4 separate regions of the Homo sapiens genome follow, and regions 1, 2 and 3 are each linked to region 4. The links come from fine-mapping of genetic effects on gene expression. A gene starts in region 4. Each other region holds a variant in brackets. All regions are shown on one strand. Distances are between the middles of the regions. Region 1 overlaps ABCC1 (ATP binding cassette subfamily C member 1 (ABCC1 blood group)). Region 2 overlaps ABCC1 (ATP binding cassette subfamily C member 1 (ABCC1 blood group)). Region 3 overlaps ABCC1 (ATP binding cassette subfamily C member 1 (ABCC1 blood group)). Region 4 holds the start of ABCC1 (ATP binding cassette subfamily C member 1 (ABCC1 blood group)).

Evidence for each region. PIP is the estimated chance that this variant, and not a neighbour inherited with it, causes the effect. A credible set is the group of variants that fine-mapping cannot tell apart.
Region 1: its variant is the best candidate, but not a certain one, in a credible set for the expression of ABCC1 in sun-exposed skin (GTEx, PIP 0.88).
Region 2: its variant is the best candidate, but not a certain one, in a credible set for the expression of ABCC1 in monocytes after Pam3CSK4 (Quach 2016, PIP 0.64).
Region 3: its variant is the best candidate, but not a certain one, in a credible set for the expression of ABCC1 in whole blood (INTERVAL, PIP 0.73).

What each region holds. Positions count from the first base shown.
Region 1 is chr16:16,056,807-16,063,214 of GRCh38, reverse strand. All of the region lies in intron 12 of ABCC1 (ATP binding cassette subfamily C member 1 (ABCC1 blood group)), which reads right to left. Among named protein-coding and RNA genes, the nearest start is that of ABCC1, 110 kb to the right of the region's middle. The variant G/A (reference allele first, on the strand shown) is at 3,883.
Region 2 is chr16:15,968,022-15,975,888 of GRCh38, reverse strand. All of the region lies in intron 1 of ABCC1 (ATP binding cassette subfamily C member 1 (ABCC1 blood group)), which reads right to left. Among named protein-coding and RNA genes, the nearest start is that of ABCC1, 22 kb to the right of the region's middle. RefSeq lists enhancers at 3,796-4,435, 4,436-5,074, 5,075-5,714. The variant T/C (reference allele first, on the strand shown) is at 4,345.
Region 3 is chr16:16,089,246-16,097,112 of GRCh38, reverse strand. ABCC1 (ATP binding cassette subfamily C member 1 (ABCC1 blood group)) reads right to left here. Exons shown (of 31, transcript NM_004996.4): 19 at 6,525-6,708. It also overlaps the pseudogene RPL17P40. Among named protein-coding and RNA genes, the nearest start is that of ABCC6, 130 kb to the left of the region's middle. The variant G/AAG (reference allele first, on the strand shown) is at 3,134.
Region 4 is chr16:15,945,923-15,953,789 of GRCh38, reverse strand. ABCC1 (ATP binding cassette subfamily C member 1 (ABCC1 blood group)) reads right to left here and starts at 4,174. Exons shown (of 31, transcript NM_004996.4): 1 at 3,991-4,174. The coding sequence starts at 4,038. LOC107984869 (a long non-coding RNA gene) reads left to right here and starts at 4,619. Exons shown (of 3, transcript XR_001752339.2): 1 at 4,619-4,999.

The DNA of each region.
Region 1 (6,408 bases), 110 kb before region 4:
GAATCAGCTGAACCTGGGAGGTGGAGGTTGCAGTGAGCTGTGATTGTGCCACTGCACTCCAGCCTGGGCGGCAGAATGAGACTCCGTCTCAAAAATACAGAAATGTATAAATATATAAATAAATAAAATGACATGGTCGTGGCAGTGTCTCCATGGGCCCTAGGATATGATCAGCAGAGAACTACAGGACAGATCATTACCATAGAGAATGATGAATTATTCTAACAAAGGGAGATTCAGGGTAAACAGAAGGCAAGAAGCTCACAAATCATCCAAGACAGAAAATGTTAAATATTGACGGCTGCCTGGCGATGCTATTTTAGGAAAGTGCATTAGGTGGACGTGGTAAATGCCAGGTTTGCCATTCCAGAAAAACAGTCCCATCAGTCCCTGGATGGCATCCCTGGCCTTCCCCGGCCTCTGTGTTCCATCACACCTACCGCTGGGTAAACACCTCATCGTCTTTGAAGCACAGGAATGCACACCAGTGGAAAAAACACTCAGGCACCTTCCAGGGGAACTAAAGGCCACATATTTTATCCTAATGTAGTCAGAGGCTTCGATGCCTCGGCCAGGACAAGGTCTCCCCAGCTGACACCCAGGCCCATCTGTTTCTTGCCAAACAGCTCAACAAACTCTGTCTCTGGAAACTCCGGGAAACTAAATGGCAAGAAAGCTCAAGAAAAGGTTAAGTAAAGCCGGTAGCCGGGCTCAGTATTTCACATCTGTAATCCCAGCTACTCCAGAGGCTGAAGCAGGAGGATCGCTTTAGCTCAGGAGTTGGAGGTTGCAGTGAGCTGTGATCAAGCCACTGTACTCCAGCCTGGACAGCAAAACAAGACCCTGTCTCTTTAAAAAAGAAAGAAAGAAAGAAAAAAGAGAAGAAAAGCCAGTCCTGCTCTTAAGCATCTTCTGCTGTGGTTTCCTAATGGGGAACAGGGCAGGAAGTGATAAGCAAAGTTTGGTGACAGCCTGGAAACTGTGGGTTTTGCCAACGAATCCAATGTGCAGAGCAAAAAGCTGTGAGAACACGCTGCCCATCCCCTCCTAAGCGGGACACAAGGCACAGACCAAACCTCATCACCAGCGCCCTCTGGCTTGTATCTTTTCCTCTGAGACAAGACCTTTCAAAATGCCATCAAGGCCAGGTGCAGTGGCTCATACCTACAATCCCAGCACTTTGGGAGACAGAGGCAGGCGGACTGCTCGAGCTCAGGAGTTTGAAAACATCCTGGGCAACAAAGTGAGACCCTGTCTCTGCAAAATTACAGAAATTAGCTGGGCATGGTGGTGCATGCTTGTAGTCCCAGCTGCCTGGGAGGCTGAGGTTGGAGGATTACTTGAGCCTGGGAGGCAGAGGTTGCAGTGAGCCAAGATCATGTCACTGCACTCCAGCTTGGGCGGCAGTGTGAGACCCCATCTCAAAAAAAAAAAAAAAAAAAGAAAAAAAGAAAAAAAAAGCCATTTTGTATGTATTTATGTATGACTCTTACTATCACTTGTATAAAAGTAAAGTAAACAGAATCAAGTAACCATAACTACATGTATGACATGTATCCACCATTACAGTGATACAGACGTGGACTCTGGAAAAACACACAAGAAACATGGAGAGAGGGAAGCAAGGTGACTGGTGTTAGGAGGAAGGGCTTGGGCCTTTCACTATTGACTGTGGTTCTCAACTGGGAGAATTCTGTCCCCCAAGGGGACACTTCGCAATGCCTGGAGCCATTTTCTATTGTCACCACTGGGAAGAAGAGGGAGAGGTACGACTTAGCATCTGGCAGGTAGAGGCCACAGATGCTGGGAAACATCCTGCAATGTGCAGTCCAGGCCCTACAACACAGGGACAAAGGATGACCTGTTGGCGAATGTCAGCAGGCTGAGGTGGCCACGTGCGAAGTCCGGCTGTATGAATACCATCTGGTGCAGCTTTAATTATGTTTCACCATATGCAAATACATTACTTCCTACTTTATAAAGTAAGACCCACCGGGCATGGCGGCTCACACCTGTAATCCCAGCACTTTAGGAGGCCGAGGTGGGTGGACCACTAGAGGCCAGGAGTTTGAGACCAGCCTGGCCAACACGGCTAAACCCCATCTCTACTAAAAATACAAAAAATTGGCTTGGCATGGTGGCGTGCGCCTGTACTCCCAGCTACTCGGACGCTGAGGCAGGAGAATTGCTTGAACCCTGGTGAAACCCCGTCTCTACTAAAAATACAAAACTTAGCTGGGCATGGTAGTAGGCGCCTGTAATCCCAGCTACTCAGGAGGCTGAGGCAGGAGAATCGCTTGAACCCAAGAGGCAGAGATTGCAGTGAGCTGAGATCGTGCCAATGCACTCCAGCCTGGCGAGAGAGCAAGACTCCTTCTCAAAAAAAAAGGAGAGTCCAGGCGCGGTGGCTCACGCTTGTAATCCCAGCACGTTGGGAGATCAAGGCAGGTAGATCACTTGAGGTCAGGAGTTCGAGACCAGCCTGGCGAACATGACAAAAACCCATCTCTACTAAAAATATTAAAATTAACAAGGCATGGTAGTGCATGTTTGTAATCCCAGCTAGTCGGGGGACTGAGGCAGGAGAATTGCTTGAACTGGGAGATGGAGGTTGCAGTGAGCTGAGATGGCACCACTGCACTTCAGCCTGGGTGACAGAGTGAGACTCAGTCCCAAAAAAAACAAAAAAAGAGAGAGTTCATCAACGCACCCCGGTAAAGTCAAGGTATTGGAGTGTAAGAAGAATGCAATGTACAAGGCAGAATGCAGGGGCATTGGAGCTGGAAGTGATCTTAGGGAACATGGAGTTACAGAAGGGCAACAAGATGTCATTTCTTGCTCAACTCTAGGCCACTGGCACCAGTCACCTGGAGGGCTGCTTGAACATAACTCAGTGGGAAAGAACCCCATGAGTGACTGTGGGTGTCTGCTGTGGGCATGAGGAAGGAGGACAGGGCCCAGTATTTGACATGCTTGGAATCTAACCCCTTCATTTTCCATGTGACAAAATCTAGAGCCAGCGAGGTGAGATGACCAGCTTTGGGGTCACACTGTGAGCTGGCAGTAGAATGTGGCAGGTGTCCTGATTCTCAGAAGAACATTCCAGTCCTCTAAGCCAGGGGCTGGCCAACAAGGATGGCTCAGGTCCACATTTGGCCCACACCTGTTTACATACGGCCCATGAGCTCAGCATTGATTTCATTTTTTTTATTTTTTTTGAGACAGAGTCTTGTTCTGTTGCCCAGGCTTAGAGTGCAGTGGCGTGACCTCAGCTCGCTGCGATCTCCGCCTCCCGGGTTCAAACGATTCCCGTACCTCAGCCTCCCAAAAAGCTTGGATGACCAGCATGCTCCACCACACCTGGCTAATTTTTTTTTGTGGGGGGCTGGGAGGGGGTGGGGGGGCAGCAGCAGGAAAGGGTCTCACTCTGTTGCCCAGCCAGGAGTGTGTGGCATGATCTTGGCTCACTGCAACTTCTGCCTCCTGGGTTGAAGCGATCCTCCTGCCTCAGCCTCCCGAGTAGCTATGACCACAGGTGCGCACCACCACTTCCAGCTAATTTTTGTATTTTTAGTATAGACGGGGTTTCACCACGTTGGCTAGGCTGGTCTCAATCTGCTAGCCTCAAGCAACCCGCCCGCCTCGGCCTCCCAAAGTGCTGAGATTACAGGCATGAGCCCCTGCGCCCAGCCAGATTTCATATTTTTTAAAAGTTAAAAAAATCAAAACAATATTACATGACACATGCAAATTCTATAAAATTCAAATTTTGGTGTCTCTAAATACTTTTTTACAGGAACACAGCCACACCCATCGATTTCCATATTATCTAAGGCTGTTTTTGCACTACGCTGGAAGAGACTGGTATTTGTGACAGAGACT[G/A]TATGGCCCGGAATTCCGAAAGTATTTACAGAAAAAGTTTCTTTACTCCTACTTTCTGCCAGTCTCTCTCGAAATTTAATGTGCATACACACCACCTAGAGAACTAGTTACAACTCAGATTCCGTTTCAGTGGATCTGGGCTGAGGCCTGAAATTCTGCACCGTTAACAAGCACCAGGTGATGCCATGGCTGCTGGTCCACGGACCAGACTTTAGGCAGTGAGGATCCACTCCGGTGTCTCTACATGTCAACCTGAACCAGAAGCAGCAGCACCTAGGGATATGTTAGGAAAGCAAATACTCAGGCCCCAACCAGACCTACTAAAACTGAAAATTTGGGTGGGGCCCAGAAAGCTGAGTTTTATAGTAACAAGCTAACAGCCAGCACTGTGGCTCATGCCTGTAATCCCAGCACTTTCGGAGGCCAAGGCGGGTAGATCTCCTGAGGTCAGGAGTTCGAGACCAGCCTGGCCAACATGGTGAAACACCATCTCTACACTAAAGATATTTTAAAAATTAGCTGAGCATGGTTGCTGCATGCCTGTAATCCCAGCTACTCAGAGGCTGAGGTGGAAGAATCGCTTGAACCCGGGAGGCAGAGATTGCAGTGAGCCAAGATAGTGCCATAGCAATCCAACCTGGGTGACAGACTGGGACTTCATCTCAATAAATGAATAAATAATAAAATATAATAACAAGCTCTCCAGGTGATTCTGATGCAGGCTTGAATTTGAACACCATCTCTCCTGCAGTTCCAGACCCTGAGAGAAGTAAGGCAAGACTAAGAAAATTCAGTGGGAGCATGAACACGCTTTCGCAAATGCTGAAACAGCTGGAGCTTCCTTAGACATTCCACCTGAAACTCAACAAAGATGAAGCAGATGGTAGTTTAACAGAAAAGTTCATATTCATAAACATGTTTAACTCTGCTTCACAGAAACTTGCCAGAAAAACATATAATTTGCCAACCTGACCAAGAAGGAATAGTTGTAATGAGCACAACATTACAAAAAGAATGACACAGTTAATAAAAAGACAGAAAGAAAAAACAAACATGGGGCATGATCTGAAGTCATCCTTCACCATTAACTGTTTTTAACTGTGCTTAAAAAGGGAATTTCCAAAGTCCATCTCTGTATGGTCTCCTGATTTGCGGCCAACTTTGCAAATTGTAAGTTGCACTGTTGTCTTTAAACTTTTCAAAGCCAGCTAGGCAGGGATAGACCCATTACCATACCCCAGGACAGGTACCAGAACTTTCAGTGTAGCATGGATCATAACAGCAAAAAAAACAGGGAACAACCTGTTTTTGCAAGGAATGGGAGAAAGGGTAATTCCAGCAGGGCGCATCTGCACGTCAGACAAGCATCCATCATGAACACAAATGAAACAAGCTGGGAGTGGTAGCAGTGCACCTGGAGTCCCAGCTACTTAGGAAACTAAAGCAGGAGGATTGCTTGGGCCCAGGAGTTCAAGGCTGCAGTGAGCTATGATCGCACCACAGTACTCCAGCCTGGGGGACAGAGCGAGACCCCATTTCAAAACAAAACCCCCCAAAAAACTAAAATGAAGTAGACCAGAATGAACGAACCAAGACTATATATTGTTAACCAAAGAAAAGAGAACACTATGTACAGTATGATTCCATTTATATCTGTCAAAGTATTTTTAAATACCTATATGCTTGTCCATTTTTCTCTAAAAGCGTACACGAAACTGTCACTTTAGAAGGGAGGAACTGATGGAAGAGAGGACAATATACTTTTCATTTTATATCTTTCTGTATTTTTTTTTTTTTACAATGGATGACAATATTTGTTCAGCACCTGCTATGCACTGTTTTATATACTGAGGATACAGCAGTCAAGAGAAACGACAAAAATGCCCATCTGGAGCTGACATCCTAGTGGGGGAAAAGCAGACAATAAAATAAGTACATTTTATTTTACTTATTTTTTTTTTTTTTTACTTTTTTGAGACAGGGTCTTGCTGTGTTGCCCAGGCTGGAGTGCCGTGGCTCGATCTCGGCTCACTGCAACCTCAGCCTCCCAGGTTCAAGGGATTCTCATGTCTCGGCCTCCTGAGTAGCTGGGAATATAGGCATGCACCACCATGCCCAGCTTTTTTTTTCTTTCTTTTTTTTTTTTTTTTTTAAGCAGTAACAGGGTTTCACCAGGTTGGCCAGGCTGGTCTCGAGCTCCTGGCCTCAAGTGATCTACCCACCTTGGACTCCCAAAGGGCTGGGATTACAGGCACAAGCCACCGCACCCAGCCCAAAATAAGTAAATTTTAGAGTGTGTTTAGACCATGCCACTTGACATGTGGCCTATGAGACACTGACAATCCACACTTTGTGACCAGTTGGTGACAAAATAAGGACGCAGCACCACAATGTAGATCAACTATGGCACCAAGCGTGCCGTTCGACTCAGCTCGCACTTTTTGTCTTGCAAGGCTATCTTAATGCAGGAAGCAGGGGGCACTGGTTTACATTCTGGCACAAGCTCCTTATATCACAGTAAATAGA
Region 2 (7,867 bases), 22 kb before region 4:
GCTTATTAAACACTCATTCAACAAATAAAAGGTGGCCAGGTGTGGCGGCTCACGCCTGTAATCCCAGCACCTTGGGAGGCTGAGGCGGGCAGATCACCTGAGGTTGGGAGTTCCAGACCAGCTTTACCAACATGGAGAAACCCCGTCTGTAATAAAAATTCAAAATTAGCCAGAGATGGTGGCGCATGCCTGTAATCCCAGCTACTCAGGAAGCTGAGGAAGGAGAATCGTTTGAACCCAGGAGGCAGAGGTTGCTGTGAGCCGAGACCCCACCATTGCACTCCAGCCTGCGCAACAAGACCAAAACTCAGTCTCAAAACAAAAAAAAACAAAAAAAACAAAAAAAACCACCACAAAACATAAATAAAAGGTGATTAAATCTATCTGAAGAGCAATCCAGAAAGCAGGCAGAGAAAAGCCTAACCACGCATACCCCATTTTCACCCAACAATCCTACTTTAGGGACAGGAGTCTAAAGGAAATAACTCCAGCAAGAAAAGGAACAACGTGTACAAGCTGGGCCATTTCACAACAGCAAAAAACCAGGAGAACTCCCAAGCACCTAAGAGCCAAGCAAACTGGGGCAGATGATCCGATTAAAAAATGACCCTGCTGTCACAAAACGAACTGTGCAACCTCCTGCACCCCAGGAGAGGCCACCCCTAAAGGTAGCAGGTAGCACTAGCCATGGGGCTTACATTCTTGGGCGAGGATTTTTAAACCATGTGTAAAAGCAGAACGAGAAATACAGCAGGCAACATCTCTGACTGCCGAAGAGCTGTGCTTAAGAGTGAGGGGGAGGCTGGGCATGGTGGCTCACACCTGTCATCCCAGTACTTTGGGAAGCCAAGGCTGGGGGGGATCACTTGAGGTCAGGCATTCAAGACCAACCTGGCCAACATGGTGAAACCCTGTCTCTATTAAAAATACAAAAATTAGCTGGGCATGGTGGCAAACAACTTGTAATCCCAGTGACTTGGAGGCTGAGATGGGAGGATCACTTGAACCCAGGAGACGGAGGCTACAGTGAGCCGAGATCATGCCACCGCAGTCCAGCCTGGGCGACAGAGTGAGACTCTGTATCATAAAAAGAAAAACAGAAAGAAACTAGAAGCTATTATTATACTGCATTGATTCTAAGACTCTGTTTCTTCCTATTTTGCTATCTTTGATATTTGTCTGTGTCTCTCGATTAGCCCATCCTGTAAACACTGCTGGCTACATTTTTATATCCTAACATCTCTGAAACTGGGAAGTATGTCATAAATACTGGCCTCTAGGATTCCATGAAACGCAGCATGTCCATATCAACAGCCTGGTCTCTCTAACTGAATGATTAAGGGATGGTGAGAGGCTTTTTTCTAAGTTTCCAGAATTAAGAAGGAAAAGTTAAAAAATTCCCTTACTTCTTAGCCACGCCAACTCAAGGAGACAGGCAGTCACCACACCCCCCACTCCCCACTCCCACTCTGTAACCGCTCAATTAACTTTAATGGGGGTCTGAGCATCATTGTCAAGCTACCTGACCAGGCCAGCTCAGGCAAACCCACCAGCAGCCTGATCTCTGATAATCTCAAGCTGCCTTCTTGTCTCCACAAGGCCCATGCCCAGGCCAGGTTTGTTTTTGCCAAACCGAGGCAGACAGGAGAAAATAAATAATAAAATCTCCCACTTGCCAAAGCACAGCCCTTTCCAAAGCATGTGGTCACCAAGAGGCCCTGATTCCTGCCAGGTCCCAGGAATACTCTCTGCAAGGTACAGTGTTCTTTTAGAAGCACTCACATAGGATTTGCCTGGCAAGAGGGCTATCATTTCAACCACTTCAGCTTCAGGGTCAATAAGCTGTGTCCTCACCAGTCTCTATAAGGGACATATCTTGAATTCATATGCACATTCTTTTTTTTGAGACAGGGTCTCACTCTGTCACCCAAGCTGGAATACGGTGGTGCAATCGTGGCTCACCGCAGCCTCAACCTCCCAGGCCCAGGTGATCATCCCACCTCTGCCTCCTGAGTAGCTGTGACCATGGCCATGCACCATCATACCGGGCTAATTTTTTTTTTTTTTTAATTTTGTGTAGAGACTGGGTCTCGCTATGTTGCCCAGGCTGGTTTCAAACTCCTGGGCTCAAGCCATTCTCCAGCCTTGGCCTCCCAAAGTGCTGGGATTATAGGCATGAGTCACCACGCCCAGCTCACATGAACATTTTAAACTGCATCACACGATTGCTGGAGATCTGATAGTATCTTGAGAATGGACCTTGAAAACCAACAAGCAGGCTACACCATTGCTGATAGTCACCCAGGAGAAAACACAATCACGATGGACATATTGCAGCATTACCCTAACATGGCTTGTATATAACTCCTGGCAGCAGGTGGATTGCGTCCATGCCAGGGTTTCTCAACTGCAGTACTACTGACATTTGGGACCAGAGGATTTTTCATTATGGAGCCCATCCTGTATTGTAGGATATTTAGCACACCCCCTGGCCTCTACCCACTAGACTCTAGGCGTGCGCTCCCTGCCCCATCGTGACAGCCAAAAATGTTTCCAGACATTGCCAAATGTCCCCTGGAGACAAAATCATCCAGAGTTAAGAACCACTGATAATAGGCGATTTAAAGAATATCTTTTTTTCTTAGTAGTGCTATATTTACTTTAATAGCTATTAAAGTAAGCACATAAATATAACCAACCTGTGACTTCAAAGACATTCTAAAGTGATATGAAACTTCCTTTTGCGATAACTTTGTTAAGGCTTAAAAAGTGAATTGATTGAAAGAAAAACATTAGCTGAGTGTGATGGCTCATGCCTGTCATCCCAGCACTTTGGGAGGCTGAGGTGGGCAGACGACTTGAACTCACAAGTTCAAGAGCAGCCTGGGCAACATGGTGAGACCCCATCTCTACAAATATAAAAATTAGCCAGGTATGGTGGTGCATGTGGTAGTCCCAGCTACTCTGGAGGCTAAGGTGGGAGGATAGCTTCAGCCTAGGAGGTAGAGGTTGCAGCGAGCTGAGATTGTGCCACCACACTCTAGCCTCGGCAACAGAGCCAGCCAGACCTTGCCTCAAAAAAAAAAAAAAAAAAAAAAAAAGTTAAAAAATAAGTACATGTTGGACAATATTGGCTGGCTTACTCAAAAGTTTCTCCCTTGCTGTTTCCTCCTAGAGAAGCATAAAACCAAATGCTCATTTTTCCTGCCTCCCTTGCAGCTAGAGGTGGTCATGTAATCCAGTTTCAGCCAAGGAGACATGACCAGAAGTCTGCAATGTGGACAGAAGAGCCTTTGAAGAAGGCTTGGACTTTCCTGAATAGAAAGGAACCCATGAGGCTGGTGCAATCCCTCCCTCTTCCTACCTTGAACCCAGATATATTGCCTAGGGCTGTAGCAGCCATTTAGGGGCCTTGAGGAAAAGACAAGAAAACAGCAGAGATGTCAGTCCTAACAACCCTGCATCACTAATCCAATGCCAGCAACTCCAAGAGGTACTGGAATTCCTGACATGTAAAAAATAAACAAATGAATACCTTTCTGCTTAGGCTGCTGAAGTAGGGCTGTTTCTTGAAGCCAGATGCAATCCTAACAGATACAAGGTAAGAGATAGATGTCAAAATCCTGAAGACTAGACTCAAATGACTGAGGGGCAAAACAGCTGGGGAAAGGGCAGGCTTTGAGTCAACCTGCTGGGTTTGAATACCGTGTCCACTCCTTGCTAGTGACATGATCCTGCGCATGTTTAACTGTGTCACAGATTCCCCATTTAAAATAAAAAGTCATTACAGCAACCACCCAGCATGACTGTGGGCCTGAAACAAGTTATGTGCAGAGAGGGCTGGGCATACCACACAACACAGAGTGACCTCAACGCATGTTATTTTATTTATAAAATCAACTCCTGGAGGTTCCGTCTCTCAGCTTTGGAGCCCCCCACCCTCTGTCTCTGTACAGGGGACCTTCTTCCTTCTCCCTTCCTTCTTGCCTATTAAACTCTCCACTCCTTAAAACCACTCCACGTGTGTCTGTGTCATTTTATCTAAACCGGCATGAGGACCAAGAACCCTGGTGTTCCCCCACTCATCGGAGCCGTATCATTTTGGTGTGTTGGCCAGGAAAGGAAATTATTTCATCAGACTGAAGCAATCAAACTCAAAATGGTGCTGTAACCTGAAGCACACATGGACACGCCATTCTTCCGAGGACCCTTAGATCCACCCCAGGAGGAGCCCTAGCTGCTGTTCCCCATTCAACGCCCCTTTTCACCAGGAAGTAGCCAGAAGAAGTCGTCGCCCAAAACCCCCTAACAGCAGTTAATGTGGCATCTCCACAGGGGGTAATG[T/C]AGGAGTTAAGCAATTATTTTAGGCAAATAGAGAGGAAAAGGGGTCCTTGGGAAATGTTTGGTTTTTAAAGCAACTCCGGAAAAGTTTCTTGTAAAGCCCCGGCTCTTAGAGCCAGGCCAGCAACCTTTGATATGCAAATGCAAGCCATTAGAAACTGGGTCCACCCAAACATGGCGATTCCCACAGCCTTCTTGCCCTTTCCCCACATGTTCCTAGCAACATGGCCGCCACCACACCTCCCCAAGTGTGCAGATCATGGTACCCTGCATTTGCATATTAAAAGGCTAGGTGGGAGGGCCAGCTTTTTCATGCGCTACGTGAAAGACATGCCTAGTCAAACCAATCCCCTGAGGCCTATGCAAATCAGACACTGCCTCTTCCAGCCTCTGTACATATACCTAGCTGCTATCTGTGGCAGCTGGGGTTCCCTCTCTCAGCTTTGGAGCCCTCCTCCGTCTCTATACAGGGGATCTTATTCTCCCTTCTTTCTTGCCCCTTCTTGCCTATTAAACTCTCTGCTCCTTTAAATAAACAAACAAACTCTTACCAAAGTCACACAAGCAAGATGGGGATAAGGCAGACTAGAAGTGATTAGTCATTGGTTCTTTCCAACACTTGAGAAGGAGTTGTCTTTAGGGACTGAGTTGAAGGCCAGGTATAATGGCTCACACCTGTAATCCCAACACTTTCGGAGGCCGAGGCAAGAAGATGGCTTGAGCTCAGGGGTTTGAAACCAACCTGGACAACACAGGGAGACCTCATCTGTACAAATTAAAATATATATATAATTTTAAAGAAATAATTGTGTTGTAAATATCCCTGTCTTAGAGCTAATGCCTAAGCAAGGAGGGGGGAAAGAAAGCTGCCAAGGCTTCCCACAGGATCCAAGTCCTACAGGCCCAATTCTCAGCCTCCTTCTGGTTCTTTTTCTCTTCCCTACTCTTTGACTCCAGCCACAGTGGCCTTCCTCATTAAGCCAGTGCTTCTGCACATGCATTTCCCACTGCCCAGAACATTCTTACCTTCTGCTTTTGCCTATACAGCAGAAACTGCTAGCTGCGCTCCAGTATCAACTCTCCCTCATCCCTGAGTAACATCTTCAGCTGGGTACATCCTGCTTAGAAAGGAAACTACATTTCCCAGCCTCCTTTGCAGCTAGAGGCACCACATGACTAGGTACAAGCCAATGGGATGTGACGAGGAGAGACGTAGGCAACCTCCAGGTTGTGCCCTTACTCTGCTTTCCTACTGGCTGCCATGTGGACATGGAGATGCATCATCTTGATCCATGCAGATGAGGACAGCAGAGCAACAAGATGGGAGGGGCCTGGGACCCTGATTATTTTGGGGACAGAGCTGCCACACCAGCTGGGATTTTTACATGAGAGAGAAATGAGCTTGTATCTTAACCCACTATATTTGGGGTCTTTGACACACATAGCCAAACCTGTATCATCAAACGGGTTCCCCACTTAAGGAGTCTCCTTTTTTCTCTCCAACCAGATGAAACCCCGCTATTGCACTCACCGGGCACCACGCAGCTCCCCTTCATAGCACTTCCTGATGATTATTCATTTATTTGGCCATTTCCCCAACAAGACTGGGGCTCAAGGAAGGCAGGGAACCATGCTCTGTATACCGCTCGATTCCCAGCATGGAGCCCAGGTAAGGGCTATGCAGGACCCTCAGAGACTGTCACCTGAATGGGACCAGTCAGGCCATGGGACCCATTCATGGGCACTGACCCTCGGAGATTCTACCTCCTGCAAAGAGCTCCTGAGAGGGTCTAAGATACCCACTCACCCAAGTCTTGCCTCGAATTTCCCCAGGACCTACCTGTACACAGAGGTTTAAAAAAAAAAAAGACTATGGGCTGGGAGCAGTGGCTCAAGCCTGTAATCTCAGCACTTTGGGAGGCAGAGGCAGGGGGGATCACCTGAGGTCAGGAGTTTGAGACCAGCCTGGCCAACATGGCAAAACCCGTCTCTACTAAAAATACAAAAAGTAGCCGGGCGTGGTGGCACATGCCTGTAATCCCAGCTACTCGGGGGGCTGAGGCAGGAGAATCACTCGAACCCTGGCAAAGGAGGTTGCAGTGAGCCGAGATCACGCTACTGCACTCCAGTCTGGGCAACAAGACAGAAACTCTCTTAAAAAGAAAAAAAAAAAAAAAAAAGACTGACCAGCTGCCTAAAGAGGAAACAATTATCAGCAATTACTCAGATCCATGTTACATTTCATCTGCAATTAAATATCAATTAACAAAAATGCATCATAATCAAGATGCACCAGCCCACGCAAACAAAAAAATAAAGACTATATGTTTTGTTTTGTTTTTCTGAGACAGAGTCTTGCTCTGTTGCCCAGGCTGGAGTGCAGTGCCATCATCTTGGCTCTCTACAACCTCCTCCTCCCAGGTTCAAGTGATCCTTATGCCTCCCCCTTCCCAGTAGCTGGGATTATAGGCAAGCGCCACCACAGTTAATTTTTGTATTTTTAGTAGAGATGGAGTTTCACCATGTTGGACAGCCTGGCCTTGAACTACTGACCTCAAGTGATCTGCCCACCTCGGCCTCTCAACGTACTGAGATTACAGGTGTGAGCCACCACACCTGGCTGACTGTTTTCAATACAAAAAAAAAAAAGAAAAAATATTAGCTGGGCATGGTGGTGGGCACCTGTGGTCCCAGCTACTCCAGAGGCTAAGGTGGGAGGATTGCTTGAGCCTGAGAGGTCATGGCTGCAGTGGGCCATGATCGTGCCCCTGCACTCCACCCTGAGCAACAGAGGAGATCCTGTCTCAAAATACACATATATATGTTTTTGTAGAATCCCGTTCTTGTTCTTAAAAAATACCATGTATTTATGGCTGGGCACGGTGGCTTAGACCTGTAATCCCAGCACTTTGGGAGGCTGCGGCAGGTGGATCACTTGAGGTCATGAGTTTGAGACCAGCCTGGCCAAAATGGTAAAACCCCATCTCTACTAAAAATACAAAAATTAGCTAGACATAGTGGTGCATGCCTGCAGTCCTAGCTACTCGGCAGGTGAAGGCTGCAGTGAGCAGAGATCACGCCACCTGCACTCCAGCCTGGGTAATAGAGCAAGACTCTGTCTCAAAAAAAAAAATTACTATATCTTTAGGATCTGTGGAGAAGAGAGGCTGAAAATTAAAAACATCAACCTGCCAATAAGATTGTCTCTAGAAGAGGCTGGCCATGGTGGCTCACCCCGGTAATCCCAGGACTTTGGGAGGCCGAGGTAGGCGGATCACCTGAGGTCAGGAATTCGAGACCAGCCTGGCTAACACAGCAAACCCTGTCTCTACTAAAAATACAAAAATTAGCCGGGCATGGTGGTGCATGGTACACACCTATAACCCCAGCTACTCGGGAGGCTGAGGCAGGAGAATCACTTGAACTTGGGAGGTGGAGGTTGCCGTGAGCCGAGATCACTGTACTCCAGACTGGGCAATGGAGCAAGACTCCGTCTCAAAAAAATAATAAAAGAAAATTATCTCTA
Region 3 (7,867 bases), 140 kb before region 4:
ACAAACAAACAAAACCCTCAGATCTTAAATTCCAAAGGAAGAGATCAACAATAAATGAACAAGTAGATCCATAATTTACTCCAGGCAGCAATAAGTGCCACAAAGTAATCAAAGCAGGGAAGAAGAGGGACATGAAGGCTGGGGGCCAGGGTGGAGAATGCTATAAAGTAGCAAGAGTTCTTTCTTTTTTTTTTTAAAGCAAACACACGAAACTTGTAATTCAGTGACTGTCACTGAGTTCATGCAACCACCAGGTGTTGGGTTTTGGATGCTGTCAAGCCAGGTGCTGTTTCTACCCTTGACCCACGTACGTTAAGTGCTGCCCCGGGTCTGTGTATTCCGTTGCCAGTCCTCTCACTGTTTATTCCACCAACACTGCCTTTACTCAAGAAGGTTCTGGAACTCTGCTTGGGCAAGGTCCAGCAGGCCAGCCTCCCCGGAGGGAAGAATTCAACTCACAGCTTTATAGTCAACGCCTCATTTTTGACCAAAAACGGCATTCACTGGCTGCCTCACTGACCTCCTCCCCCAGCCTCGGCAGAGAAAGCTCTTCATCCTCAAAAGAGGAAGAAATCCGGCCTCTGAGGACAGCCAGAAGGAATGTGGGGGTCTGTCTGATGAACTCTCTCGGCAGCTGCTCTGTGCTGACAACTAATTTGTGTAACTTGGGGAGGTGCTTATGGCCCACTGTTAAGAAAAGAAATCAAAAGGTGGCAGGAGATGAGAAAACTCTAAGATATACTCTCAATCTTGTCAAGGGAGAAGGCCTAGGAAGGAAGGACAGGTGAAAAAGATGCCAAAGCTAACAACAGCTCCCCTTCTGGGCAGTGAGGGCAGAAAGATGTTCTTTCTCGGGAGTTTTTTTTTGTTTTTTTGTTTTTTTTTTGAGACAGTCTCGCTCTGTTACCCAGGCTAGAGTGCAGTGGCACAATCTTGGCTCACTGCAAGCTCTGCCCCCCGGATTCACGCTATTCTCCTGCCTCAGCCTCCTGACATTTCTGTATTTTTAGTAGAGATGGGGTTTCACCATGTTGGCGAGGCTGGTCTCGAACTCCTGCCCTCAGGTGATCCGCCTACCTTGGCCTCCCAAAGTCCTGGCATTACACATATGAGCCACCTTTTTTCCTGATTCTTTGTACTCTTTTGTAGTTTGCAAATGTCTACGATGAGCACATGTTGCTTTTATAATCATTAAGAAAAACTCGGTAAATACTTAAGAGGGAAAAATATTTGCCATGAGGTTAACAGATGGTTCAAGCAAGGTTTTGAAAAATGGCCACGGGCCAGGTGCCGCGACTCATGCTTATAATCCCAGCATTTGCATTTTGGGAGGTCAAGGTGGGAGGATCGCTTGAGCCCAGGAGTTCGAGACCAGCCTGGGCAACAGACTGATATCCCATCTCCATAAAAAAACATAAAAATATATAAATAAAATTTTTTAAAAGAGAAAAATGGCCACATTGTTGGAATAAAGATCCTTCTCCCAAGAGGACAAGGGAAGAATTCAGCAGTGTGAAGTCGGAGCACACAGGGTTTCTTGCTCGTGGTGCTTTGGATGTCCTGGCAAGGGGATTCCCTGTCACGGGGGGCAGGGTAAGGGGGAATTCGTCTTGAGTGCTGTAGGATGTTTAGCGACATCGCTGGCCTCTACCCTGCTTGCCTGCCAGGGGCAAACCCCACTCCAGTTTTGACATCCCAACATGTCTCCAAACATTGCCAACTGTCCCCAGGGTGGGGGCAATTTGCCCCTGATGGAAAACCACTGCTCTAGGTATTAGGTTCCTAAGAAAGAAACCAGAGTCATGAAGATGTGTTTTACCTTCCAGGTATGAAGGTTAATGAGCCATTTTTTTAAATCCCTTAAAAATTTGTTCCCCTAAGGGGCTTGAGGCAATCTGTGAAAATGGTTCACTATTCACTTTATCCAGAAAACACCACAGAATCATGCAGATCAAGAGGTTCAAATCTTCGTGTTCACCTTAAGAACATTTGTGAGGCCGGGCATGGTGGCTCATGCCTGTTATCCCAACACTTTGGGAGGCTGAGGCAGGAGGATCCCTTGAGGCCAGGAGTTTGAGACCAGCCTGGTCAGCATGGTGAAACCCCATCTCTACTAAAAATACAAAAATTAGCTGGGCGTGGTGGCACATGCCTGTAACTCCAGCTACTCGAGAGGCTGAGGCACAAGAATTTCTTGAACCCGGGAGGTGGAGGCTGCAGTGAGCCAAGATCGTGCCACTACACTCCAGCCTGGGCAACAAGTGAGACTCTGTATCAAAAAAAAAAAAAAAAAAAAAAGGCCAGGCGCAGTGGCTCACGCCTGTAATCCCAGCACTTTGGGAGGCCGAGGCGGGCGGATCATGACGTCAAGAGATCGAGACCATCCTGACTAACACGGTGAAACCCCGTTTCTACTAAAAATACAAAAAAAATTAGCTGGGCATGGTGGCGGGCGCCTGTAGTCCCAGCTACTCGGGAGGCTGAGGCAGGAGAATGGCGTGAACCTGGGCGGCAGAGCTTGCAGGGAGCCAAGATCGCGCCACTGCACTCCAGCCTGGGCGACAGAGCAAGACTCCGTCTCAAAAAAAAGAAAAAGAAAAAGAACACTCCTGAAAGCGCCCAGGCCATCAAAGGTATGCACGTACAAAAGGCCACAAAGTATCAGAAAGATGCCACTTTACAGAAACAACATGTACCATTCTGACATTATAATGGTGGAGTTGGTAGATGTACCCAGGCCAAGAAGTGGGGCTGGCCACAAGGTCGGCGGCCCAAAAAGAGCACTGAATTTCTGCTGCACATGCTTAAAAATACAGAGAGTCACACTGAACTTAAGGGTTCAGATGCAGATTCTCTGGTCCTTGAGCATATCCAACTGAAGAAAGCACCTAAGTTGCGTCGCCGGACCTACAGAGCTCAGGGTCGGTCGGATTAACCCATACGTGAGCTCACTCTGCCACATCCAGATGATCCTGCCTGAAAGGGAACAAACTGTTCCTAAACCGGAAGGGGAGGCTGCACAGAAGAAAAATATATCCCAGAAGAAATTGAAGAAACAAAAGCTTATGGCATGGGAATAAATTAGGAATAAAAGGAATGCCATTAAAAGTTAAAAAAAAAAAAAAAAAAAAAA[G/AAG]GAGAGAGGGAGACAAACAGTAAAAAAGATATATTTCTTAGAAATCAGTAAACTGAATATCCCGGGAGAGAGGTCGGTATGGCCCCATTCACAAGCCTGGTTCCTGCCCATCCCCCCTCAAGGATTCTCCCAAACCAAATACCAACACCTGCACCCCTTCAGCCTGGGTGTTCTAAAAAAAAGAGCTGATTAATCCAACAAGGAAAAAAGTTCCCCTTTAGGAAGAGCCAAAAATGTGGTTTAAACAAACCCAAGGTCATTGGCGCTTCGAGTTGGCTAAGGCTGGGCAAGACCAGACCCTGATGTCAAGACTTTATAGCCAGGGCCCCTCCAGAGCAATGGAAAAGGGTGGGTGGTGAGAGAGGGGGGTGCCCCAGTTTGATGTAAGACCCACTGCCAAGGACTTCTATGTAACCTCAAAGGCAGGAGGTAGGGAGGTCAAACTGGGAAAATGAACGCACGAGGTGCCAGGGTGGTGGGCGGCATTTGCATCACCAAATTAAGTGCTGATGTGTACAAAAATCACAAAGCATCTGGCAGCCTTCCATGTTCTGTATACACTGCTTGGATACTCTAGCAGCTGGGAAAGAAAGGCGGGGGTGCGGAACCTATCTGGGGCCAAGAGAGTTTAAGGACATTTTTTGCTCACCTGGACGGAAGGGTAGAGAGACAGACCTCACGCTGGGCAAAAGATTCAGCTAAACCCACACATTTTGATTTAGAGAGCACAAAGGGTATTGTCACCTAAAAGTAGCCTGCCAAGCAGGTCAGTGAAAAAGTCACCGAGAAGTTGCCACAATGCATTGCTCGGGCTGAGAGATAGACAAAGGGGGATTCTGCAGCAAGAAGAAACAGGCTAGACTCAAGGTAGAACTTCCCAACCACAAGGGAATGAACATGCAGAAATTCAGTCTAATCAAATAATTTAAAAGCTGAAGGGAATGTCAGCTATCATGCACTGGCAAGAAACAAAAATCCAACTGTATTTTGAGACATGGTCTTGCTCTGTCACCCAGGCCAGATGGAGTGCAGTGGCATGATTTTGGCTCACAGCAGCCTGACTCCCAGGCTCAAGCGATTCCCCCACCTCAGCCTCCCGAATAGCCGGGACTACAGGTGTGCACCACCATCCCAGCTAATGTTTGTACTTTCAGTAGAGACGAGGTTTCACCATGCTGCCCAGGCTGGTCTTGAACTCCTAACCTCAAGTGATCCACCCGCCTTGGCCTCCCAAAGTGGTGGGATTACAGGCACAAACCACCACACCCGGCCACCAACTTTTCCTTTAAAACCACCAGGGCTCATGACAGCAGTATTCACAAGAGTCAGAAAGTGGAAAAAACCTGAATGTCCATCAACCAGTGAACAGATCAACACAGTATGGTCTATCTGCACAATGGCATATTATTCCGCAATAAAAGGAAATGAAGCTACAACATAGACGAACCTTGAAAACACCACGCTAAGTGTAAAAGCCGCCAGTCACAACATTCCACCTATTGTGATGGCATTTATATGAAATGTCCAGAATAAGCAAATCTAGAGAGACAGAAAGATTAGTGGTTGCCTAGGGCTTCGGAGGTGCTGGGGAAAATAGGGAGTCATGGCTGATGGATTGGGGTTTCTTTTGGGGGTGATTAAAAAAAGTTCTAAACCTGACTGTGGTGATGGTTGGATTTTGTGATTTAAGTGGGTTAATTGTATGTTGTATGAATTTTTGTTTTGTTTTGTTTTGTTTTTCTGAGACGAAGTCTTGCTCTGTTGCCCAAGCTGGAGTGTAGTGGCACGATCTCGGTTCACTGCAACCTCCGCCTCCAAGGTTCAAACTATTCTCCTGCCTCAGCCTCCCCAGTAGCTGGGCCTATAGGCGTGCGCCACCACGCCAGGATAATTTTTGTATTTTTAGTAGAGACAGGGTTTCATCATGTTGGCCAGGCTGGTCTCCAACTCCTGACCTCAGGTGATCCACCTGTGTCAGCCTCCCACAGTGCTGGGATTACAGGCGTGAGCCACTGCGCCCAGCCTACGTGTGTGAATTACATCTCAAGAAAGCACTTATTAGAGATCACTAGGACCTCTGCAGAGAAGGAGCTCCCACCCCAGGCAAAGGATGAGAAACTCAGAGACCAACTTGAGAACCAACCCTGCCAGCAGCTGCTGTGTATCCTGGGGCTGGTCACTTTGCCTCTCTGACACTCAGTGGCTTCCCAGGGCAGTTAGACCAAAACCCACCTGGAAGGCCCTGCAGGACAATCACTGTGCTGACCTCTTCTCCTGCCCCCCACGTCCTGGCACACCATGGTCTGGCCACACCACCCTTTTTGTTTTGTAAACAAATTGAGCTCATGCTGGTCCTGAGGCCTTTGTACTGGCTGTTCCCTCTGCCCACAACACTTCCCAGATCTTCTCCCTGCTGGCTCCTTCCCATGCCAATGCAACCTCCCCAGAGAGGGTTTCCCTATCCCCTGCCTGAGTTGCCACAATGACACCCATCACTCCTCAGCCCATGGCATTGTCTTTTTTGTTTCCCCTCCAAAGCACTTAATAGCATCTGAATTTTTTTTTTTTTTTTTTTGTAGAGTTGGGGTTTCAGTATGTTGGCCAGGCTGGTCTTGAATTCCTCCTGGCTTCAAGGGATCCACCCACCACGGCCTCCCAAAGTGCTGGGATTACAGGCGTGAGCCACTGTGCCTGGCAAATTTTTTGTATTTTTTGTAGAGATGAGGTTTCGCCATGCTACTGAGGATGGTCTCAAACTCCTGAGCTGGAGCGATCCTCCCACCTCAGCCTCTCTATGTGTTGGGATTACAAGTGCTGGGAACCACCACGTCTGGCCCTGCTGAACTGCTTTATGAGGGAGGAAAGTGAAGCTCAGATGGGTCTGAAGGGCAGGCCTCAGGTCACATAGCTGGGGAGATGAGCGGCCGGGGATTGAACCCAGACGTCACCAACCCGAGCCTGCCAGCTTAACTCCGTGCTTCACCTCACAACCCTCACATCTCTTGTGTCACGTATGTCCTCAGTTTCTCTCAGCCCCGAGAGCCAGGACTTTAATTACCATCATTCCCATTTTTGCCATAAGGACCCTGAAACTCATCAGGTCCAAGGTCATGTTCCAGGAAGGCGCTAGACCCTGCCCTGAGGTCAGCTGAGCTGAAGCCTGGTGCTCCCATCCCCTGGCCATAAAGCACCGAGACTCTCTCCCAGTTCAGCGCTGCAGGGACTAAGGTGGTTTTCCACATTGCTTCTTTAGGGGGCTCCATCCAGCTCCCACCCTCATGCCCTGAGGAGCCGCCTTCCCCAAGTGGCTGGTGGCAACCTCAAAGAGGCCAATGTGGCCCTTCAAGGTGCCAGACACCCTGAGTGGGTGGAACCCTGGGGCTGCCCCTACCGTTCTCCTCTGCATCCTGCTCCTGCTCTGTGCTGGCATAGGTACGCAGGAACTCAGCGAAGGCGCCGTCTCGAGCCAGCAGCTCCTGGTAGGAGCCCATCTCAGAGATCTTGCCGCCACTCATGACGATGATGACGTCCACCTGCGGCAAGTAGCTCATGCTGTGCGTGACCAAGATCCGCGTCTGTGGGCAAAGGGGACACCCGGCCACGTGAGTGCACATGTGTGAGACTGCCTAGCTTGGCAGAGTGAAGACTAAAGGAGGAATGAGCCGACGAACACCTGGTGGGCAAAACTCAGGTCTGAAGGTGGGACATGCACCCGCGATAACAGCATCCAGGAGCAGCTGAACCTGTGCACACGGTCCTGTAACATGCATGTGCAAAGGGCCTGCCACGCCTCAGGTGCTGAGCTAAAAGCTGGGGAAGGGGAAGGAAACAAAGACCCCTGCCCCAGATTCCAGGGCCGCAGGAGAAACGAACACTAGTAGAATAGTGCTTGCTGAATGGCAAAAACACAGCAAAAAGGGGAACGGGTGTACCAAGTGTGCGGGTTTTGCAATTTTAACAAAGGTAATGGGGAAGGTTATTTTTTAACAAAAACCTGAATGACAAGAGGTAGGGAGGGAACCATACAAGTGTGTAAAGGAATAAAAGGATGGTGCCACAGCAAAACAGTTTGTATGCAATGGCTTTTTTTTTTTTTTTTGAGACAGAGTTTCACTTTGTTGTCCAGGCTGGAGTGCAGTGGCACAGTCTCGGCTCACTGCAACCTCCGCCTCCCGGGTTCAAGCAATTCCCGTGCCTCAGCCTCCCTCCCGCGTAGCTGGGATTACATGCGCCCGCCACCACACCTGGCTGATTTTTTTGTTGTTGTATTTTAGTAGAGATGGCGTTTCACCATGTTGCCCAGGCTGGTCTCAAACTCCTGACCTCAGGCAATCTGCCTATCTTGGCCTCCCAAAGTTTTAGGATTACAGGTGTGAGCCGCTGCGCCCAGCCCAATGGCTTAATTTTTTTCTTCTTTTTTTTTTTTCTTTTTGAGATAGGGTCTCGCTCTGTCGCCCAGGCTGGAGTGCAGTGGTGCGACCTCGGCTCACCACAACCTATGCTTCCTGGGTTCAAGCGATTCTCCTGCCTCAGCCTCCCAAGTAGCTGGGACTACAGATACGTGCCACCATGCCCAGATAATTTTTGTATTTTTTGTCAAGACAGGGGTCTCATCATGTTGTCCAGGCTCATCTTGAACTCCTGAACTGAAGCGATCCATTCGCCCTTGGCTTACAAAAGTGCTGGGACTACAGGCATGCGCTACCGTGCCCAGCTCTGGCTTAATTTTTTTCT
Region 4 (7,867 bases):
CAGATATTCAGGGGGTTACTGAGTTGGTGGATGCCACAGAGCATCTCAGAGGTGCACATCAACCCTGGGACCAGCTCACTCCATCGACGGTGACACACACCTGCAGCTTCCTTCTGGTCTTCTCCAGTGGCAGTTGGTGCAACAGCAAAAATTAACTGGAGAATTCCAGGTGGCAACGACCACTGATCTTTACTGAGCGCTGTGTGCCAAGCAGCAACATTTTAAGTCCTTGCTAAGGATTAACTCACTTATTCCTCAAGTCACCGCTATTCACTAGGTACTACGTTATCCCACATAGGGAAACTGAGGCACGGAGAGATGACGTAACCTGCCTCAGCAGCAGAGGCGAATTTGCTCTGAGCCACCACACTATACTGCTTAATACCAAGTTGTTTCCTCTGCTTTTCCATAATTTCCAATTTTTCTACACAGGGCCTGAAGCACAATTTTTTTTTTCTTTTGAGACAGTCTCTCTGTCGCCCAGGTTGGAGTGCAGTGATGTGATCTCAGCTCACTGCAACCTCTTCCCAGGTTCAAGCAATTCTCCTGCCTCAGCCTCCCAAGTAGCTGGAATTACAGGCGTGAATCACCAGGCCCAGCTAATTTTTGTATTTTTAGTAGGGATGGGGTTTTGCCATGTTGGTCAGGCTGGTCTTGAACCCCTGACCTCAGGTGATCCGCCTGCCTTGGCCTCCCAAAGTGCTGGGATTACAGGCATGATCTACTACACCCGGCCCTCTTTTTTTTGAGACAGGGTCTCAGTCTGTGGCCCAGACTGGAGTGCAGTGACCGTGATCTCAGCTCATTGCAACCTCCACCCCCACAGCCTTCAAGTGATTCTAGTGCCTCAGCCTCCCTAGTAGCCGGGACCACAGGTGCCACACCACCATGCCAGGCTTTTTTTTTTTTTTTGGTATTATTAGTAGAGACGGGGGTCAATCCATGTTGCCTAGGCTGGTCTCGAACTCCTGACCTCAAGCAATCCGCCTGCCTCAGCCTCCCAAAGTGCTGGGATTACAGGCGTGAGCCACTGCACCCGGCCTGCTTTTTTTTTTTTTTTTTTTTTTTTTTTTAATGAACTCACAAAAAGTCCCAGGCCCATTTTTCCAACCATCATGCCAATATCAACCACAAAGCAGCGCCTCCTACCAGTCCCACCCCCATGAGAAAAGAAAGCCAAGGGCTGCTGTGACCTGTCCTCAGGCCCTATTTTCCGTTTTGATAGCAAAGTTCTCCTTTTCTCTTCCCAGAGCATCTGTCTGAGTAAAGGTCAACAGAACACTTATCATGGGCCATTTCCATCTTCTGGGTTTTCTGGACATTTCCTGCGGCTCAGAGGCAGACAGTAGCCCAGAAACAAAGCTCTGACAGAGTCACCCGAGGCCCACTGACCTTGACTTCTAAGCACATGACCTTGGTCACAACAGGAGCCAGGCACGGGTGCCTCACTGCCTTTTCACAGCCCAATCCCATCTCCACCAGCTGAAGAAAAGGGGAATCCAAAGGAAGAACAAGGAGCTTAAAACACACAACTTCATCTTTGGAAAAAATAATATTTAATACTAACCATTGTTTATCTCCGTGCAGGGCACAAGCTGAGCCACTTACAAGATTAACTCATTGACCCTTCGCAACAACCCAAGAAGGCTGCCACATTTTTGGCTCCTGTCCAATTTTAGAGATGAGGAAAGTGAGGCACACAGAGGGAAAGTGGCTTGCTCAAGGTCACACAGTTATCTGACTGCCTGGGAGGCCAGTCGCTCCTGGCCTCGGACACGCTACCTTGAAAAACACAAAAACAGCCGGGCACAGAGGCCCATGCCTGTAATCTCAACACTTTTGGAGGCCAAGGCAGGAGGATCGCTTGAGCCCAGGAGTAGGAGACCAGCCTGGGCAATATAGTGCGAATCTGTCTCTATAAAAAATACAAAAATTAGCTGGGCGTGGTGGCACACGCCTATAGTCCCAGGTACTTGGGAGGCTGAGTTAGGAGGACCACTTGAGCCGGGGAGGCAGAGATTGCAGTAAGCTGAGATCGTGCCACTGCACTCCAGCCTGGGTGACAGAGCAAGACTCTGTCTCAAAAAAGAAAAAGAAAAAAAAAAGAAAAGAAAAAAGCAACAACTACCTACTTTCTAGCTTTCAGTTAATTATATTTCAATTTTCCCACTCAGGCCCCAGTTGCCTCCTCTCAAATTCTGGTTCCAAGGCACCTCCAACAAGTCTTGGAATCCAGACAGCAGAAATACGCAAGGTCAAACACGGGGATGGGGTACCTACCAGAGGCAGAGATCAGCTACAATTACCCCCAAGCAAAACCCAACCACCTGGCAATTTCTGTGGCAGAAAGTCCTTAACGAAGGAAAAAATAAAAAGAAAAAAGAAAATAAAAATTTTAAAAAATATTACAACTGGACTTCGTGAATGAGTTTCTTAAGATAAACAAAGCGCACCCCAAACATACTCATTAGCCATCAACTACCAATTGCCATCAATAAAATACGTCCTGATACAAAACCTCATGGATGTTCACCCTGTTTTGCCCCCTCCTCAATTCAGAAGAAAATAAACAAGAGAATATTCTGGAATTCACAGCAACACAAACCCAGATCACCATGTGAATCTTTGCAAAAAATAATCTTGCTGTTACTACACCTGGCAACAAGGAAGCCACAGGTTTTCCCCTGCTAAAGAAAGTCCATCTGCAAAGAGGCTCCAATCACCCCCAGACCCTCAAGGCAAAGTCTGTGTTCTATTTCCACCCCTGGGGTTACTCTCCAACCCCACTGGCTTAAAATGGGAGATATATCAAAGTGTGGTAGGTTATTAAACACAATGATACCCTACTAAAAAAAACAAACAAACAAAACCAAACCCTCCAATGGGGCCCTGGAGGATGACTTTTCAACACTCCAAATGCAACCCTCGAGGAAAGGCCGGCAAAACAGGACAAGAAAGTATTTTTGGAAGCTGATCACCAGCTCCTAAGAACCAAGGCTGTTTCTCCTGATTCCTAAACAAAAGAGGAGAGAGAAACAGTCGTGTCCAGATTTGCCTACTGCGTTCACCAACAATCAAGACAGCACGAGACAGAAGTGCCTGCCTTCCTGGAACAAAGAGGCAAATCGCATTACGGAGAAGCTGAAGCCCAAAAGACTGGGGCTTAAACCACAGCAAGTGGACTCCAGACACCCAGTCAGGCTCCGCAGGCCACGTTACAGAAGAAAACTTGCCGGGGTTAAATCTAAGGGGCATCCCCAGAGAGGAGCTCCACGTGTTGCAGGGAAGGGAGGGCAGGACCACAGCTACCAGGGTCCTGGGCGTCCTCAGCTGCACCCCAAGTCTGCCCCGAGCCGAGGGTCAGGTAGGGCACATCAAGGGTGGACATCCCCCTTCTTCCCTGGTTCCCCCAAACTTCCCCCGCAGTATCTAAGTAGAAAGAACAAAAAAAACAAAGCTAGGTAACCACAGAAGAGTAATGTGGCTTGTACGACAACTTTGGGGAGACAATGAAAGTCCCTTTCTACAATCTAAGCCCCTCCCCAGCTCACCCCGTTGGTCACGGAGTATTTTTCGTGAAAAGGGGGGACCCTAACCACAAAAAAGATGGGAAAACAGAAGCAGAGAGACACCCCTCTTCCCGCCCCCCATCTCTAGCGTCCCCTTCCCTGGAAGGTTGTTTTTACAGACGGGAACCCCAAAACAGGAAGGCCTCCTCACGGCGGCTCTGACCCGACCCGACCCTCCAAAACCCCAGGGCTGGGCACGCGGCCCCCCACGCTCTGCTCCGCAGGAACTGAGTCACCCAAGTTTCCCCCATGCCTTGCACCCCCGAAAGGGGCTGGGCCGCGGGCGACGTGAGGGTCCCGGGCCCCCGAGGCCGGCAGCAGAGCGGGGAGCGGGGTGCCCCGGGCGGCTGCGGGCCCGGTGCTTTCCCTCCCCGCCGGCCTCCCTCCGTCCCGCCGGCCTCACGCGGCCCCCGGCACGTACCCAGAGCGGGTCGGAGCCATCGGCGCTGCAGAAGCCCCGGAGCGCCATGCCGGTGGCGCGGGCGGCGGCGGGCACCGGGCGGCGGGTGATCGGGCCCGGTTGCTGGCGCGGGCGGCGGCGGGCACCGGGCGGCGGGTGATCGGGCCCGGCTGCTGGCGCTAGCGCTGGCGGCGGCGGCGGCGGCGGCGCAGGGAGCCGGGGCCGGGGCCGCAACGCCGCCTGGTTGGCCCGCGCGTCACGGGGATGCGGCGGCCCCGCCCCACCCCGCCCCGCCCCGGCGCCCGCTCACCTCGCGCGTCTCGGCGTGGGCAGCCGGACCAGCCACCTCTCGGCGCCCCGGGCCTGGACCCCGCGCCACCCCCACCCCAGATCCTCCAAGGCTTAGGCCCACCCGCTCGCGGACGGGCCTGGGGAGCGTTGGCTCGCCTTCCGGAAGCGCCTGGGATCTTTGGGGCCACACACCCTGCGACCACTTTTCAAATGCTGTTTAAGGACAGTATCCGTCACCAGGGGAAAATAACGTGAACGGAGCCCCCTACCTGCCTGGAGTGTACCGGGCGCCTTAACTGTGCCCTCATTTCATCCTGTAAAGTCTCCACGTTCATGAAGGAAGAAACCCAGGTGCAGAGAGGTTGAGTGATTCCCTCTGCCCAGGGTCACCTGGCTAATCACTTGCAGGGCTGGGATTTGAACCCGGTCCGCTGACTCCAAAGCTGAGTCACACAGAAGGAGGTGAATACTGTTATTCACCTACCTTTTACAGATGGGGAAACTGAGGTTCAGAAAGGCGAAGTGACTTGCCCGAGGTCACACAGTTAATAAGGAGTGAAAGTGGAAGTGAGATTCAAACCCGTGAGCAGCCTGATTCCGGAGCACTGATGACCCAGACGGCGCCAGTCTCCATCACTAACAGCTGTTGACCTCACCTGTGTGCAGAGCGCCTTTGCTTCTTCTCAACCTCTTTAAGCATCACTTAGAAATAACCAGGTTATTGATCCTCACCTCAGAGGTAAGGAAACTGAAGCCTGGAGACATGATAATCGTAGGCCAGGCATGGTGGCTCGTGCTTGTAATCAAGCACTTTGGGAAGCCGAGGCGGGCCGATCACATAAGGTCAGGAGTTCAAGACCAGCCTAGCCAACATAGCAAAACCCTGTCTCTACTAAAAACACAAAAATTAGCCGGGCATGGTGGCGGGCACCTGTAGTCCCAGCTACTTGAGAAGCTGAAACAGGAGAATCACTTGAACCTGGGAGGCGGAGGTTGAAATGAGCTTAGATCACACCACTGCACTCCAGCCTGGGCAACAGAGCAAGACTCTGTCTCAAAAAATAATAATAAAAAAAATTAATATGCATTCACAGTGACAAGGCTTCCTAAGGCTGTGTTCTTAGCAATTTACACAAATTAACTTGTGCAATCCTCACAACCCCATGAGGTAAGAAGTAGTATTATCCCCATTTTGCAGATGAGGCCACTAAGGCCCAGAAAGACAGAGTACATTGTCAGGGATTATTTAGATGGTAAGTGATTAAGCCAAACTTTGAACCCAAGAAGTCTGGCCAGGGAGGTGGGAAGTCTATAATACCATCCATTGCGCCATATTAGTTTTGAACTGTTTCATAGGCAGACAGGTAGAGACAGAGGAGCTAGGGCGAGGCCGCAGAGTGTAAATTTCACTGTGATACCAGCGATGCCTTTCTTTTCTCCTCTCCTCCTTAATCTCCTGCCTGATGTGGGTTTCCATAACACATGCACACAACAGCTGCACCAAATAAAACAGAAACAGTGTGTGCATTTGAGACCTCCCCCCAATCAAAGGACCTAGCGAGGGAAGGAGGAAGGAGGAAGGTAGATAGGATTGTTTTCTGTGATTTTTTTATTGGCCCGGGTCCCCCAAGGGTGAATGAGTTTCTAAGGGATAATTACTTTCATGTAATAATGCCAGTTATGCTGTTGCTTGACCTTTATACTGTCAACAAATATTTATTGAGCATTTACTATATGCCAGATGTCTTGCTAGGAACAAGATAAAATTGCTACTCTTATATAGCTTAAAGGATTGGAATTTTTTTGGATTGGGATTTTTTTAAGTGTTTCTTATGGTAAGATGGCAGATGTTAATCAAATATTATATTTTTGAAAGGGTATTTACAGGCCAGAAGTAGTGACTCACGCATGTAATCTCAGTGCTTTGGGAGGCCGAGGTGGGAGGCTCATTTGGCCCAGGAGTTCAAGGCTACAGTGAGCTATGATTGCACCGCTGCACTGCAGCCTGGGTAACACAGCGAGATCCTGTCTCAGGAAAAAAAAAACAAAAAAAAAAGCCAGGGAAGGGGAGATATGTACAACTATGGTCACAGCTAGAAAAAAAAAGTGGTGGCCGGGCATGGTGGCTCACGCCTGTAATCCCAGCACTTTGGGAGGCCAAGGCAGGCAGATCACTTAAGGTCAGGAGTTCGAGACCAGTCTGACCGATGGTAAAACCCCATCTCTACTAAAAATACAAAAATTAGCTGGGTGTGGTGGCAGGCACCTGCAGGCTCAGCTACTCGGGAGGCTGAGGCAGGAGAATCACTTGAACCTGGGAGGCGGAGGTTGCAGTAAGCCAAGATCATGCCACTGCACTCCAGCCTGGGCGACAAAGCAATACTCTATCTCAAATAAATAAATAAATAAATGTAAAAATACAAAAATTAGCTGGACATGGTGGTGGGTGCCTGTAATCCCAGCTATTCAGGAAGCTAAGGCAGGAGAATCACTTGAACCCAGGAGATGGAGGTTGCAGTGAGCTGAGATGGCCCCACTGCACTCCAGCCTGGACGACAAAGTGTGACTCCATCTCAAAAACACAAACAAAAAAAGTGGGCAAAAGTGGGCCTAAGTTAGCAATTTATACCACCCTTGCTGGGGGGTGGAAGTCAGAGAAGGCTTCCTGGAGGAAGAGGCTTTCAAACTGAGATACAAGGAACGCGTCTGGGTTCCTTGGGCCTGGGTTGTGTTCTGGGCAGAAGAAAACAGTTTATAGCAAAGTTATGAAGCAGGGAGGGTCCTTGGAGGAAACTGAAGACAGCCTGGATGGCAGGAACCCAGAGAAGAAGCAAAAGAAATCCATCCGGAGCAGGTGGGGTCAGAAGGAGCCAGGGCAGGCAGGTACCCGTCGGCCAAAGGAGGGGCAGTGGGAACCACTGGTGGGTTTTAGGCAGGGCACAAGACAGAGTTGGATTTCTTTCCATGTTTTATTCATTCACTCTTTATTCATCCTTTCAACAAATATTTATTGAGCAAGCACATGAAAACATGCTCAACTTCATTAGTCATCAGGGAAATGCAAATAAAACCCCAGTGAAATACCATCATACACCCACCAGAGTGACTGGAAACAAAGACTGAAAATTACGAGTGCAGACAAAGACGTGGATTAACTGGAAAAGGCACGCTCTGTTGGGAGGTATATAAATTGGCTTAACTACTTTGGAAAACTAACAATTTGGCTGGGTGCAGTGGCTCATGCCTGTAATCCCAGCACTTTGGGTGGCCGAGGCAGGTGGATCTCTTGAGCTCAGGAGATTGAGACCAGCCTGAGCAACATGGTGAAACCCCATCTCTACAAAAAATACAAAAAGGTGGGCCAAGGTGGGTGGATTGCCTGAGCTCAGGAGTTCAAGACCAGCCTGGCTGACATGAGGAAACCCCATCTCTATTAACAATACAAAAAAATTAGCCAGGCATGGTGGCACATGCCTGTAATCCGAGCTACTCGGGAGGCTAAGGCAGGAGAACTGCTTGAACCTGGGAGGCGCAGGTTGCAGTGAGCTAAGATCGCGCCACCGCGCTCCAGCCTGGGCGACAGAGTGAGACTCTGTCTCAAAAGTAA